2 separate regions of the Homo sapiens genome follow, and region 2 is linked to region 1. Evidence: fine-mapped expression QTL. Tissue or cell type: whole blood. Region 1 holds a variant in brackets; the other region holds the start of a gene. All regions are shown on one strand. Distances are between the middles of the regions.

Region 1 (8,183 bases):
CATGCTGTTCCAGGAGCCTGGCCATGACAGGTGGCTTTGCTTGGTGTTTTGTCCAGGATCAGCTTTCCAAGGCTGCTGTGACAGCCCTGGCCTCTCTCTACGGGACCAAGTTCAACTATGGCAGCATCATCAAGGCAATTTGTAAGTGGCCGTAGGGTCTCTCTTGATGGGCCTGCGAGGAACATCTGCTGGCTCTTCCTGACCGAGGGAGTATCCCTCATGGAAGGAAGTAGCCAAGGGCACCCAGATCTGTCAACTGCTGGCAAGGGCTATTCTGAGGGGTGGGCAGTCCCTTTTCCTGACATGAACTCTGCTTCCTTTGATACTTTCAGACAAATGTGAATTCCTCTGACAGCTCTTGTCCTCTTGTGTTGGGGCCAAGTCTAGTTTCTTGGTTGGATGGGGTGGAGAGTCCTGCTGGGATTTGCAGATCACCAGGAAATTCAACTTAAAAAAACACTTCTCGGGGGCAGGGCACCGTGGCTCATGCTTGTAATCCCAGCACTTTGGGAGGCTGAGGTGGGCGGATCACGAGGTCAGGAGATAGAGACCATCCTGGCTAACATGGTGAAACCCCGTCTTTATTAAAAATACAAAAAATTAGCTGGGTGTGGTGGTGTGCGCCTGTAGTCCCAGCTACTCGGGAGGCTGAGGCACAAGAATCGCTTGAACCCGGGAGGTGGAGGTTGCAGTGAGCCAAGAGCACGCCACTGTACTCCAGCCTGGGCGACACAGCGAGACTCCATGTCAAAAAAACAAAAACAAAAACCACTTCTCCTCCAGTGCCCCTCAATTAGACAATAGGCCTGATTTATTCCTCACTTACTTATTCATGCAGTGCCCCTGAGAGGAGCATTACTGAATCAAAATGGAATTAACTCAACAAATGTTTATTGAACACCTACTATACACCAGGCCCTGTTTCATGTACTTGGGATATAGCCATGAATGAAATAAGCAAAGATCAGGGAACTTTCTAGCCAGGGAGACCAACAATGAACATAAATAAGTAAATGATACAGTATGTGAGGTGACGAATGCTGGGGAGGAAAACTAAAACTAGACCAGGTGAGGTGAATCGGGAACACTGGGGGTGGAGGTGGGGCAGGTGGGTTGAAGGGTGGGCCTCATTGACAGAGTGACATTTGGGCAACTATTGAAGGAAGTGGGTGGAGGAGGTGGCAGCCAGGAGGCTATCCAGCTAGGAAGAGCCTTCCAGGCAGAGGAACATTCTAGAGCAAAGGCTCTACAGTGTGGTCTGGCCGGGGATGTTGCTGGAACAACAAGACTGGTGTGGCTGCCTCCAAGTAAGTGAAGGTCAAAGCTGGGTAGAAGGCTGAGGGGGCAGGGCTGCGTACACACCTCACACGCTTCCTGCCTGAGTGCCTAGGCCTTGGTGGGCAAGCAGGTCACAATCTTATCCAAGGTTGACCTCACTTTTGGACTCCAGGCCTTCTTTGGAAACTGATTCAACTCTGAGTCAAGGTTTTGCTTCATTCAACATGGTCAAGTTAAATTCTGATATGCAGCCTACTGCTCTCTCCTGGGCCAATTCAAAAGTGGCTTCATTACCCACTGTTAATTACAGTTTCCCGGGCAAAGTTTCCTCCTAAAAGAAAGACAAGGGGCTTTTGCTTTGACTCTGGCTCTTTGCACTTTCCCCCTCACAGACCAGAGCCCCAGGGGAACAAATCCTGGTTACCCAAGCAGGGAACTCGGTATATTTAGGGGCTTCACCGAAAGGGCTGTTGGACAGAGGCTGTTTTCAGAGGGGCTTGTGCAATTGCAGAGACTTCCTTGCATCCCCTAGTGAATAGGGGAACCATTGCTGGTCTCCTCTTTGGACCTCTTGGCTTAGACCTTTTAGTGGGAGTTTCTTGGAAGTGAGGCTGCTTGGTCAACAGCAGACCTTAGTAGACACTGACTCCACTCAGCATTGCACAAGGCACAGAGCTTTGGACAGGGTTGGATCGTTAACCCAACCCGTGTAAATATTCCCAAAGTGATTGACCCTTTCTCTCCTATTTTACTCCTGCCCCAGATCAAGCCAGTGGAAGCACTATTGACTGGACCTACAGCCAGGGCATCAAGTACTCCTTCACCTTCGAGCTCCGGGACACTGGGCGCTATGGCTTCCTGCTGCCAGCCTCCCAGATCATCCCCACAGCCAAGGAGACGTGGCTGGCGCTTCTGACCATCATGGAGCACACCCTGAATCACCCCTACTGAGCTGACCCTTTGACACCCTTCTTGTCCTCCTCTCTGGCCCCATCCAGGCAACCAAATAAAGTTTGAGTGTACCAGGAACAGAATCCTGGGGCTTGCATGTGGAGTGTCTGCCTCTTCAAGCTGGGGCAAAAGTGATTTAATTCCTGCAGGCCTCACTGGAAATGTGTGGGTGGTTGGACTAGATGACCCCTACATTCCCCTGCATTCCAACATCCTGTGAAGTCGTATCCAAGTGGCGTCTGTTTTAATTAGACCACCCTGAGTTCAGCTCACCAGTGGGATGATTTGTTCATACCTTAGTAGCAAGCAGCAGCAACAGCTGCTAACCAAATGCCCGGCACCCCACAGTGGTGTGGAATTCGGCGTGTACAAAGGTCTAGCTAGCTGTGTCCATTCATCTATAAAAGCAACAACCTAGAAGATGAAATATAATAATCCAGGTGGCCACTGCTGTCCAAAATAGATGTTGCAGCCAAGTAAAACAGATTACTAAAGAGCAAAATATCATCTTCCATTCCGGAATCAAATTGGAAGAAAACAATTGGGTTAAATAAAATCATTAACTGCAGATAAAGAACCAATCCAAAGGCCAATCCCAAGACATTTTTAATTTTTAATTTTTTTTGGTAGAGATGGGGTTTTGCCATATTGCCCAGGCTGGTCTTGAACTCCTGGGCTCAAGCAATCCTCCTGCTTTGGCCTCCCAAAGTCCTGGGATTACAGGTGTGAGCCATCACATTTGGCCAAGATATTTTATTAACTGTATAAATTAATTATATATTCTGAAGATTTTGCCTTTAGGGATAGAAATCACCCACTTTTCATTTGCCACATCCTTCCCAGCGTCTTTGGTACATGGTTCTGCTCCCTCGTGTTTCCATCCACCCCACTCCTTCCCATTCTCCTGTTGAGACCACAGCTCCTAGGCTTTAGCTTCCCTTCTTCAGCTTGGTGATCCTGATGCAAGTGATATTACAATTAGCAGCTAGCATGACTACATAAGATATCCCAACTTGTTTCAAAGCAAGAATCTCCCTTTTGGCCTGGCCACAGTGGCTCACGCCTGTAATCCCAGCACTTTGGGAGGCTGAGGTGGGCAGATCATGAAGTCAGGAGTCCAAGACCAGCCTGGCCAACATGGTGAAACCCCATCTCTACTAAAAATACAAAAAATTAGCCGGTCATGGGGGCGCATGCCTGTAATCCCAACTACTCAGGAGACTGAGGCAGGAGAATCCCTTGAATTCAGGAGGTGGAGGTTGCAGTGAGCTGAGATTGCACCACTGTAGTGTAGCCTGGGTGACAGAGGGAGACTCCATCTCAAAAAAAAATTAAAATATATTTAAAAATAATAAATGCTTGTGAAATGGAGACATGAAATTTGTTGTCCATCTCAAAAAAAAAAAAAAAAAAAAAAAAAAGAAAGAAAGAAAGAAAAAAGAATCTCCCTTTGTTTCTTCCATATCACTTCAGGTGTGAATGTGGAGCAGGGGGTTTTCCCACAGACTCTGCTGGGGAAGTGAGTGGATTGGGGCTGGAGTGAGGATGGCAGCTTCTCTCTCTAGCAGCCAGGCCAGGTTTCAAGAAGCATCCAGCTCTGTTGACTTGAGTCTTTTCCATATAAAATGGCCTGAAGGCCAAAAATGCCTTTTTT[A/T]AAAAAAAAGAGGAACATTGATGGAATTTTCATCTTGGACTTTTATTTTATTATTATTTTTGCTATCAACATTCTAAAAATAAAAATAAAAAGAATGAGGGCTGGGCACAGTGGCTCACACCTGTAATCCCAGCATTTTGGGAGGCTGAAGCAGGAGGATTCCTTGACCCCAGGAGTTCGAGACCAGCCTGGGCAACATAGCGAGACCCCCCCCCCCCACCTCCACAAAAAATAAAAAATTAGCTGGGTGTGGTGGCATGCACCTGTAATCCCAGCTAATCGAGAGGCTGAGGTGGGAAGAACCGTTGAGCCCAGAAGTTTGCAGTTGCAGTGAGCCATGATGGCACCACTGCACTCCAACCTGGACAACAAAGTGAGACCCTGTCTCTTAAAAGAAAAAAAAAGGATGAGGCTCTATGTATGTATTGTTACATTTTGTATGTATTTGTTACATTATTACATTATATCATTTACATAAACGTATAAACATGTAAATTTATGAGACGAGGTAAAATGGTGTTTCAGTCTTTACAGAAAGATGACCTAAAAGATTTGATAACACCCTCTTCAAGTTATCTTTTAGAAAATGCTTCCCTTCAATCTATATAACGACATTATAACTCTCTTCTCAAAACCCATTTTAACTGCTTAGTTTGAGTGAGTAGGAAGCTGATCACCTTTTGTTTAATGAAGACTGATAAGAGAAGAAATATTAAGTTAGCATGACAATTTATCACTTTATAAAACTGGAGCACTAGACTTTGATGGTAGAATTGCTTAATTTAAAATAAACTGTGCTTCCCGACAGCAGGAACCACCTTGTTTGGCATTCAATCCCCAATAGCGTTAACAGTACCTGACACATAGATGCCTAATAAATACCTGTTGAGTGAATGCTCTCTACTTTTATTAGTGAATTCATAAATGTTATGATCTGTATGTTGTAGGCTTGCTGAAAACACCCTGTGCAAGTTATTTTGAATTCCCAGAGTTGAGTAAGTCTTAAGAAAGCTGAAGTCAATGAATGAATGTCAATTGCACAAGGGCAAGGATTGCTTTGTTTTGTTCACCATTTAACCCCCACTGCTTGGCCAAGTGCACAGCACACAGTAATAATATTGGTATTAATATCAATAATAATAAATGCTTGGCCAGGTGCAGTGGCTCATACCTGTAATATCAATACTCTGGGAGGCTGAGGTGGGAGGATTGCTTGAGCTCAGGATTTCAAGACCAGCCTGGGCAACACAGCGAGACCCAGTCTCTATAAAAAAAACAATTTTAGGCTGGGTGTGGTGGCTCATGCCTGTAATCCCAGCACTTTGGGAGGTTGAGGTGGGCAGATTGCTTGAAGTCAGGAATTTGAGATTAGCCTGGCCAATACGGCAAAACCCCATCTCTACTAAAAATACAGAAATTAGCTGGGCAGTGGTGCATGCCTGTAATCCCAGCTACTCGGGAGGCTGAGGCATGAGAATTGCTTGAAACCAGGAGGTGGAGGTTGCAGTGAGCCAAGATTGTGCCACTGCACTCCAGCCTGGGTGACAGAGGGAGACTCTGTCTCAAAAAAAAAAAAAAAAAAAAAGAAAGAAATATATTAAAAAATAATAAATGCTTGTTAAATGGAGACAAGAAAGTTGTTGGTTTTTTTTTTTTTTGTACTTTCAAGTATGGGAAGAGATTTACATTTTGTTTGTAGATACACATTTTTACAAATCTATGGGTGAAGACACTTAAAATTCTTAAGTAAAAACATAAAGCTAAAAGACAATTTTGGAAAATATTGCAACTTAAAAATGAAAGTATTGATATGAAAATAAGTATTAATAACCTAAAAGACAATTTTGGAAAATATTGCAACTTAAAAATGAAAGTATTGATATGAAAATAAGTATTAATAACCTAAAAGACAATTTTGGAAAATATTGCAACTTAAAAATGAAAGTATTGATATGAAAATAAGTATTAATAACCTTGAGGGGTTAAAATAATAAAAAGGGTTAAAGAAAAAGACAAACATTTCAAAAGAAAAATAGGCAATTCCACTAAGAAGAAACACAAATCAATACATGTATGAAAGACACTGATCCTCTAAGTGATTTCTTGTTCATTAAGGAGAAATGAAGATATTTTTCTCTCATCAGATTGGCAAAGAATAAAAAGACTGATGACTCCAGTGTTAACATGTAGTGCTGGTGGAGCAGAAACTGGCACCACCTTCCCAGAGGGCAAATTTGGCAATATAAATCAAAATTATAAATGTATTGTGTCTTTGATCCAGAAAACCCACATGGAAGAATTTACTTTATAAAAATATTTGGATGGATTCAAAAATATGTATGTACAAGATTGGAAAAGTAAAAAACAAAAAACCTAGATAATTACCAGTCTTGATGCTGATCTGACACATCCACACACTGGAACAACACGACACCATTAAGGGCTGTGTTGACATGGAAAAATGTTCACAACATACTAAGTGAAAGAAACTGGCTATAAGATGGAAATGTTATAAAACTGGATTGTGGTGATGGTTGCACAATTCTGTAAACTTAACTCAAAATCATTGAGTTGTGCACTTAAAATGGGTGAATTTTATGGTATGTGATTTATACAATACAGTTGTTTTAAAAAAGAAGCTGGATACAAAATATTGAGTCTGGATCCCATCTTGTTTAAAAGACACACACACACACACACACACACACACACACACACACACACACAAACATGCTTTCTCTCTCTCCTTCTCTTTCTCTTCCTGGAAGGATATATCCCCCAATAATAATAATGATTAACCTGGGTAGTGGTGGTGGTAGTTTTCCTTTTTATGCTTCTCAGCATTTCTCGCAATGAGCTTCTATAATCAGCTTTTATAACGGGCAGGGAGTGAAGGGAGCTATTTCGAACACAGTAGATAACATGTGTGTAAAGTTACCTAACATCGGTGTATTATCAACATCAAACAGCTAAATGGCCATCTTAGTTTTTACTCAGATTCTTTTGATTTGTCTAAACTCATTTTTTTCTGCTCCGGTATAATGTTTCATCATCTTGCCCGGAACGCTGCAGTTTGTCTTATCTTCAGAAAAATTCACACTCCAAGATACAGCTGGAAGCAGCAGTGTTTCTACCAAAGGAAGAGATTACTCAGCTCATGCAGTTGGGGGCCATTCCCCATCCTACCCCTTGTTGTAGCTTGATGAAAATTCCCAAAACCCCTTCCTGCTCACATTCAGTTCTTGTAGCTATCTTGGGAATTGATTATGCTAATGCCTATTCCCCAGGGCCTTTGAAAATCTTTATTTTCAAATGAACTCATTTTACTTTTTACTCAGACCATTACATATGGTTCTCTAATGGCCTGTGGGCCCAATATTGGTGATCTATGAGAATCCTTAGGGTAGCCTCTTGAATTAACACTCAGATATGCACAGCTAGCTTTCTGTCTTTGGCCTAAAGTTAAAATGGGAATGTCATTGAATACAATCCAGATATGACCTCACTGGTCCTTCATCCAGTGCGGGGCGATTCATCACCCTGGCAATTGTTTTGCAAGGGCGAGTGGGATGAGGTGGATTTGAAGATGCACAGGGACTCTTGCTTTAAGGACTACAGCAACATCATTCTGTGAACACACTAAGACCCAGATGCTACTCAGATGAAGCTGATATGACTAACCGTAACATTCAAATTGGCCAAATCAAGGAGAAGCTCTCAGAAAAGCACAGAGCATGCATCGTCAAATCTAAAAAACTGTCAAAGGGTAATGAATTATTCCCCAAAGCTTTCAGGATCTGCATTAATTTGGCAACTCAAACACTGAGCATCATCCAACAACCTCAGAGACTGGGATTGCCAAATGTTTATTGCCAAACTAAAAGGAGAAAATGGAAAGTCTTCTGCTTAACCACAGTAGTGGTATTGGCTACATTTTTAGAAGAGTGCAGTAGAATAAGGGCTCTGCTGACAAGGACTGGGGCAAGGAGGTTTGCCTCTGCTTCCCCCGGGAACTCAGGCCTATGGCCATCGCCAATTCATGCAACTTATGTTTCAGCCGAAATCAGAAACATCACCACAAAGGAAAGAAAAGATCAGGCACAAATCATATCAATATGGTTTACTGAATGAATGGCTAGACCTATCAGGAAAACAGCCTACTTTTTTCCCCCTACAATATAATTAAAAGTTTGTAATTCTCATTCCTTAAGTGGTACTTTGCAAGGTGTCCATTAACAGACAAAATAACCTCGGAAGCCCTGGAGCACCTGTCTTCAAGATAAGACAGCAGACACAGGCG
Region 2 (8,183 bases), 50 kb after region 1:
TTGAACCCAGGCAGCAGAGGTTGCAGTGAGCTGAGATGGTGCCGCTGCACTCCAGCCTGGGTGATAGAGTGAGACTCCGTCTCAAAAAACAAAACAAAACAAAACAAAAAAACTGCTGTACATTCATACCACAGAATACTGATCAGGTACCAGAAAGAATGAACTACTGCTACATGCAACAACTTGTATGCGACTCAAGGACATTATCTTGAGTGAAAAAAAAAAAAGCCAATCTCAAAAGGTCACATACTGTATGATTCCATTTATGTAAAATTGTCAAAATGACAAAATTATGGAGATGGTTACCCAGGGTTAGGATGATGAGAGGGAAGAAAGTAGGTGTGACCAGAAGAGTAGCTTGGAGATATTTCTAGTGATGCAATAGTTCTTTATCTTGATTGCAAATCTACATATATGTAAATCTTGATTAAATCTATACAAGTGATAAAATGGCCTAGAACTATACATACATTGTGCAAATTTCTATTTTCTAGTTTGATACTGTACTGTACTCATGTAAAATATAATCATTGGGGAAAATGGGTGAAGGATACATAGGACTTCTTTGTACTATTTTTTTTTTTTTTGCAACTTCCTGTGAATCTATACTTATTTTGAAATAAAACGTTTTTTAAAAGTACAACAGAGCAAAAAACAGAGCTCTTAAAAATTAAAAACATGGGCTGGGCACAGTGGCTCACACCTGTAATCCCATCACTTTGGAAGGCCAAGGCAGCAGGTGGATGGCTTGAAGTCAGGAGTTCAAGACCAGCCTGACCAACATGGTAAAACCCCGTCTCTACTAAAAATACAAAAAAATTAGCTGGGCGTGGTGGCAGGTGCCTGTAATCCCAGCTACTTGGGAAGCTGAGGCAGGAGAATCGCTTGAACCTGGGAGGCGGAGGTTGTAGTGAGCCGAAATCGCACCACTGCACTCCAGCCTGGGCAACAGAGTGAGAGTTTATCTCAAAACAAACAAACAAACAAATTAAAAACATGATGGCAGAAATTAAAAACTAAAATGAAGGATTGGAAGATAAAAATTAAATCTCCCAAAGGGAGCAGAAAGACAAAGATGAGGGAAACAGGAGATGAAAGTTACGAAAATCAGAGAACCAGTCATATAGGTTATCTATATGAATACAGAACATCAGAATAATGAATTCAAGAAAAAGAGGATGGAGAAAATAGGAGAGAGAAAGTTAAGAAAATTTTCAGACTAAAAAGACATAAATTTCTGGTGCCTATCAAAATGAGTGAAAATATAAATATCTTTGTAAAGTCACACTGGGGACAAAAAAAAAAGGTTCCACAAGCTTCCTGAGAGGAAAATTCAGTCACAAAGCAAGAGAATGGCTTTGGACTTCACAACAACACAAGACACTAGACCACTAAGCAATGTTTTGCAAGATGCTGATGATGGCCAGGTGTGGTGGCTCACACCTGTAATCCTAGCACTTTGGGAGCCCAAGGCAGGATTGCTTGAGCCCAGGAGTTCAAGACCCTCTTGGGCAACATAGGGAGACCCCATCTCTATAAAAAATACAAAAAAATGAGCTGGGCACGATGACACACACCTGTGGTCCCAGCTACTCAGGAAGTGGGAGAATCATTTGAGCCCAGGAGGTCAAGGATATAGTGAGCCATGTTTGTACCACTGCACTCCAGCCTGGGTGACAAAGCAAGACTGTCTCAAAAAAAAAAAAAAAAAAAAAAAAGAAAAAGAAAAAAAAAGATGTTGATGATTTTCAACCAATAATTCTATACTCAGCCAAACTCACTGGCAAATAAATGTTAAGGTAGAATAAGAATATTTTTAGACATGCCTAACATTTTAGACATAAATTTTTAAAACTATTTCTTATGAATTCTTTCTTAAGAAACTACTAGAAGTTGTGCTCTATTCAAACAAGAGAGTAAACTGGGCATCTTTGTCTCGGGCACAAACATAACCACACGGAACATACTTGCTCCTCTTCCCCCACACTCCTAAAACTATTCCTCCTTTTCGTTCTCCCATATTCTTGATCTCACTCATGGCGCCAGCACCAATGAGTAGTCTAAGCTGAGACTTAAGTCACCCATCACGCATCTCTCAAAGCTAATCAGGAAGTATTGATGATTTTGCCCCCGTAAATATTTATCCTCGATTCCATCCCTAGTTCAATGGCCTTAGTTTAGATCTCTATCAAAATAGTAACTATTGGCAGGGCGCGGTGGCTCATGCCTGTAATACCAGCACTTTGGGAGGCCAAGGCAGGCGGGTGGCTTTGAGCTCAAAAGTTTGAGACCAGACTGGGCAACATGGTAAAACCGCATCTTTACAAAATCCACAAAAACCAGCCAGGCTTTGTTGGTGTGCGCCATAGTCTCAGCTACCCAGGAAGCTGAGGCTGGATAATTGCTTGAGCCCGGGAGGTGGAGGTTGCAGTGAGCTGAAATCTCCCCACTGCACTCCAGCCTGGGTGACAGAGTGAGACTCTGTCTCAAAAATAAATAAATAAATAAAAAATAGTAACCACTTAACCAATCTCATTTCCAGTCCTGGAGCCTCCTCAAACCCATCTTCCACAATGTAGCTACAGCCATCTGCCTAAAATGCAAATCTGACCATGTCACTCCTTTAATAACTCAAAAAATTTCTCAAATCCTGACCAGCAGACAAGATAAATATGTGGCAAACTGCCATTCTCCTCACCTATCTCTCCCACCCCCATGATACACAATATTAACATTTTTATTAATATTTTGATAGACAAATCATAACTTTATACATTTATGGGGTACAATTTGATGTTTTGGTATATACACACACACACAATGTGGAATGATTAAATCAAATTAACATATCCATCAACCCACTTATCTTTTTTTTGAGGTGAGATATTTGAAATTTACTCTCATAAAATATACAATTTACTCTATTTTGAAATCTACAATATAGTTGAACTTTGGACAACATGGGCTTGAACTGTGCAGATCCACTTATACCCAGATTTTCTTCTGCCTCTGTCACCCCTAAGGCAGCAAGACCAACCCCTCCTTTTCCTTGCCCCTTAGCAATGAAGACAATTAGGATGAAGATGTTTATGATGATACACTGCCACTTAATGAATAGTAAATATATTTTCTCTTCCTTATGATTTTCTTAATAATAATCTTTCCTCCAGCTTACTTTAAGAATTCAGTACATAATACATATGAGATACAAAATATGTTAATCAAGTGTTTCTGTTATCAGGAAGCCTTCCAGTCAATAGTAGGCTATTAGTAGTTAAGTTTTTTTGCAGGGGGGAGGGGAGTAAAAAGTTGTACATGGATTTTCTACTGGGGGTTATGAGTCTGCTGTAATTATTATTAACTATAGTCACCATGCTGTGCCAGAGATCTCAAAAACCATTCCTCCTGTTTAACTGTAACTTTGTGCCCTTGGATCAACATCTTCCCATTTCTGCCCTCCTTCCCCCCACCCTCCAGGCTCTGGTAACCACCATTTTATTCTCTACTTCTATGAGCTGGACTTTTTAAGATGCCACGTATAAGTGAGATCATGCAGCATTTAGACATTACCAATTGACCATGGCTCTCTTGCAGGGCTTAGACTCAGCCTTACAGCTTTCTCAGCCTAGTACCAGGCAGCCACCAAGAGATGAAACAGTTACAACTCCTATTTGGGATAAAGGCTAAGAACCTCAGCAAGGCAGAGAAAGCCTGGACTCCTACAGGGGCCTGTTCTGAGTTCACACACTCCTTACCTTCACTTGGGCTGTTCTACCCGGGATGATGCTTCACCTGGCTAATGAATGGCCTTGCCACCCCTTCCATCTCCACAACCCTTCTCTCACTCCCTCAGTTGAGTACTACCTATTTTCTCGTAACATCTTGCTCCCCGACCACACTGTACTCAAATTCTGTTCACAGGCTCCTTCACTAGACGCAATTTATTTATTGTTTATTTTTATTTTTTTGAGACAGAGTCGCTCTTATCACCCAGGCTGGAGTGCAATGGCACGATCTCGGCTCACTGGAACCTCCATCTCCTGGGTTCAAGCGATTCTCCTGCCTCAGCCTACCGAGTAGCTGGGATTACAGGCGCCTCACCACCACGCCCGGCTAATTTTTGTATTTTTAGTAGAGACGGGGTTTCGCCATGTTGGCCAGGCTGGTCTCAAACTTCTGACTTCGTGATCCGCCCGCCTCGGCCTCCCAAAGTGCTGGGATTACAGGCTGAGCCACCGCGCCTGGTCCACTATACGCAATTTATTAAAGGGCAGAGGCCTTGTCTTCTTTGTACGTCTAGCACCTACTGCACCGTGGAAGTTTCCAATAACGTTTGTTGAAACTGCCACAAATGCAGCAGGGGACTAGCGGTGAAACAGATGAAGAAACTGAAGGGTCCTATGGAGAGAGGGGTAAGCCTAATGTCCTATTTTGCCCGTTTTCCAAAGGTTTGGTCAGCTTACTCCTGCTCTTCCTGTATCCCCACAATCAGAGATGCTGGCTGGCTTTCAACACGTGCCATTAGTGTGCAGCGCTTCCTTTGTCTTTTCTGTTTTGTAACTGTCACTCCGAGACTGTAAGCCATTTGAGGGCAAGGGCTGTGTCTTTGGGTACTTCGCTCCTCGCAGTCACAAGTACTGGCGTGCGTACGCGGGGAGAGATCGCTCCTCAAAACGGGGTCCTGAACGCTGCCCCGCGGCCCCCAAGCCCGGCCCGCCCCGCCCCTGCATCCCGACCCCTCCTCACGCCGGCCCCTTCCCGCCTTCCGGGCGGCGGAAGTCGCTGGCTGCTCTTCCCTGCCCACATGAGCCTTTTCCGGTGCGCCCGCCCCCTCCGGCTCTCCGGCCGAGACCTGGCCCTCACCTCAGGGTTCCCAATGTGCCTCCGGAGGGACATATTTTCTCCAACCGACCACGTTCGGGGTTCTAGCCTCACGGGTTGCCTCTAACCCTAGCTTCCTACCCCCACAACCTTGTTCAGCCGCCTCCCTATACCCTCTTCTCCGATTGGCCCGTCTTCCCCGGCCGGCCAATGGGGGCCCCGTTTACTCTCTCATCTCAGGGTCGCAGAAGGGCAAGACGCCGCTCAATGGTTGCCAAGGGCAACGCGGGACGCCGGCTAGCGAGGCCTTTTGTTCTCTGGGCTGGGGCTCGCCGGCTCCAGCCTTAGGGCGGGAAGAGAGGCGCGGGGGGAGGGGAAGGCTGGCGCCTGCGCAAAGCCGGGGGCGGGGGCAGTGGCTTGAGAGCCGGGACAAAACACGAGTTTTAGCTAATGTGGAACCATAAATACAACACAAGACTCCCCATCCCCCAGCTCCGTTTTATGGCCGTTTCAACCAAACATCTGGGCTACTGATTCCACAACAGGGAATATTATATGGGCCAGGGTTGTTCAGCAGAAATGGGAGAGTATGGTTTATTATTTTCTGGTTAAGTTAATATGCGAATTATGCAAAATACATGGGTAAATACAGTAATTATCGGTGCTTTAAAAGCTTTTAGGCTAGCTATAGAGCGACATCCTTAATTGCAAAGCACACGCGCTATTCTGTGGTTCATCGTTCATTTAACAAATACTTAATAAGCACCTTATGAGAAAAGCTGCAGTAGGTCTTGTGGAGAATGGGAGGATGACTAGGACCCAATCCCGTCGTCATGGAAACCATTGTGACTCCTGCCACCAGCCACCACCTGTTCCCATTCCGGATCTGAAAATGAAGTCCTAGCACCTTTACAAAACAATTACACACACAGTTTGACTTGGCTCCTAAATGTCCCACCAAATCCATCAAAATTATTATTTCCTTTTACATGAAAGGAACAACACAGTAACCCTTTGTCCTTTGCTCTAAGTTGTTTTTCCAGGAATGGAGAAAGGTTACTCTGAGCAGTTCATACTCGCCAGTTGTCTGTTAGTGAATAATAGCACACATTTGAGCTACTTCAGGGTCTGTGAGATGACCCATTCAACAACATGGCCTCACATGCCCTTGTTCTCTTAGGCACTTCAGCAACCCAACCTTAGGGCTACACCTTGGATCATGTTGCCAGTCAGTGCTGCTTGACCAGAATTTTGAATTCTGGCCACAGCTGCTTCTTGGACTTTTCATGTCACTCTTTCATGTTTATTAAGTTTTGTCTTAATTTCCATAATCTTTGCCAGTTCTTTAACCCCTCTAAAATTCTCAGTCTCTCACTCCTCTGCTAAGGAAGGGTTTGAAGGCTGCAAAAAATTGGAAGGAGGCAGAGGGAAGAATGTTAATCTAGAAGCTTTTGCATAGCAAGCAGAAACTTCTAGATTCATTAGTATTTAGAATGTATGCTTACCTGGTGCACCTTGTGGGTAACCATAGAGATTATGGATAGAATAACGGGAAAGGAGAGAGGGAGATGATAGGGGACTACACTCAGAGGTGGTGAGAAAGACAGAAAAGGAGAGATTTAAAGACGTGTAGGTAAAATCAATAGTATACATGAGAAGAGGTAAGGGGTGCAAGGAATAGAAATTCATCAAAGATGGCTATAGTTTCTCTAACTTGAGGAACTGAGTAGATGGGCGATAATGCATTAATCAAGTTAAAGAACAACAGTCAAAAAGCCAAAACAGCAGAAAGTACAAGTAGGTCCAACAGTCCATTCAACTTCCATTCTTCAGTGTTTTGGCTCACTTCTTTGTACGGTTGTCTCTCTTTTGTTCCAGAGAACATCTGGTTTACTTGCCTCACTAGTCATCGTGGTTGTCACATTTGGACTGCACAGGAAGCATTATAGAGAGATTATAGAACCCGGCTGGTTCTTGGATCCAACTGACTGTGTGTCTGTGTGTCTGGGTGGGGTAATTTAAATACATGTTCCCTCCCCAATCCCTCAATTCTGATTCTGGCCGGCGGGTGGGGAGCGGGGGGTGTTGTGGTCCAAGGAGACTCTCCTTTAAAAGAGTCACCCCTTTCCTTCACATTTGGCCTCAATGGAATCCTTGGAAAGCTTAAAGCTATAAACCAAAAGACTTTTAACATCATGTATTTCTCTTTAGGATTCCTTTTGGATCCTGCTATGCCAAAACTGGATCAAAACGAACGCCAAGTGCTTACTTTGAAAAAATAGGCAAATGGTGGTGGCAATGGCTCACGCCTGTAATTCCAGCACTTTGAGAGACCAAGGCAGGAGGATAACTTCAGGCCAAAAATTCAAGACCAGCCTGGGCAACACAGTGAGACCGTGTCTCTATTTGTAAAAAATAGGCAAATGGTACAAAATGATAACTGATAAAAGAAAAACATCCAATAAACATATCAAAAAAACACAGAGCACCGGGCGCGGTGGCTCACCCCTGTAATCCCAGCACTTTGGGAGGCTGGCGGATCACGAGGTCAGGAGATTGAGATCATCCTGGCTAACACGGTGAAACCCCGTCTCTACTAAAAATACAAAAAATTAACGAGGCGCGGTGGCGGGTGCCTGTAGTCCCAGTTATCCGGGAGGCTGAGGCAGGAGAATGGCGTGAACCCAGGAGGCGGAGCTTGCAGTGAGCCGAGATCACACCACTGCACTCCAGCCTGGACGACAGAGCGAGACTCCGTTTCAAAAAAAAAAAAAAAAAAATACAGAGCAAGATAACTAGATCCCATTTTTCAACTATCAAATGTACAAAAGTTTTTTTCTTTAACAATAATGCTTAGTGCTGGCTAATGATTCATGAAACAACATGATCACATATTGTTAGTGCGAATATAAAGGAGCATGATCATTTTGAAGAATAATTTGAGAGTAGGTATTGAGAAGTCCTCAAATCTTAATATGCTAAGAATTCCTCCTAAGGAAATAATTGGACAAATGTACAGACATTACATCCATAGATGTTTACTGGAAGTATATTTAAAATGATAAAAATTGAAACAATCTAATTGATCATCAATTTAAAAATGATTAAAATAAATGCTGGCATATCTATACAAAGTAATCTTATGGAATCATTTAAAAGTATGTTTCAAGGCATAATTAAGGCAGTGGAGAACTGTTCCTGATACAGTAGATGAAAAGAGCAAGAAACAACTTTTTATTTAATATAATCCTGATTTGCATGGAGAAAAATACAGGTATCTGCAGAGAAAAATTGAAAGCAAAATCAAAAATATAAACCATCTTTGGATTATGGAATGTGGATATTTGTTTTATTCTTTATAC

What was found. PIP is the estimated chance that this variant, and not a neighbour inherited with it, causes the effect.
Region 2: it holds the start of CEP41, and the variant in region 1 is fine-mapped to the expression of CEP41 in whole blood (INTERVAL, PIP above 0.99). The same link has a PIP of 0.9 or more in blood mononuclear cells.

What each region holds. Positions count from the first base shown.
Region 1 is chr7:130,385,783-130,393,965 of GRCh38, forward strand. CPA1 (carboxypeptidase A1) reads left to right here. Exons shown (of 10, transcript NM_001868.4): 9 at 57-141; 10 at 2,042-2,326. The coding sequence ends at 2,229. CEP41 (centrosomal protein 41) reads right to left here. Exons shown (of 11, transcript NM_018718.3): 11 at 7,989-8,183. Among named protein-coding and RNA genes, the nearest start is that of CPA1, 9.4 kb to the left of the region's middle. The variant A/T (reference allele first, on the strand shown) is at 3,884.
Region 2 is chr7:130,436,071-130,444,253 of GRCh38, forward strand. CEP41 (centrosomal protein 41) reads right to left here and starts at 4,946. Exons shown (of 11, transcript NM_018718.3): 1 at 4,864-4,946. The coding sequence starts at 4,896. It overlaps LOC105375505 (a long non-coding RNA gene), which reads left to right and starts at 5,684. Exons shown (of 3, transcript XR_927973.3): 1 at 5,684-6,618; 2 at 6,700-6,819; 3 at 7,033-7,156. RefSeq lists an enhancer at 4,632-5,386.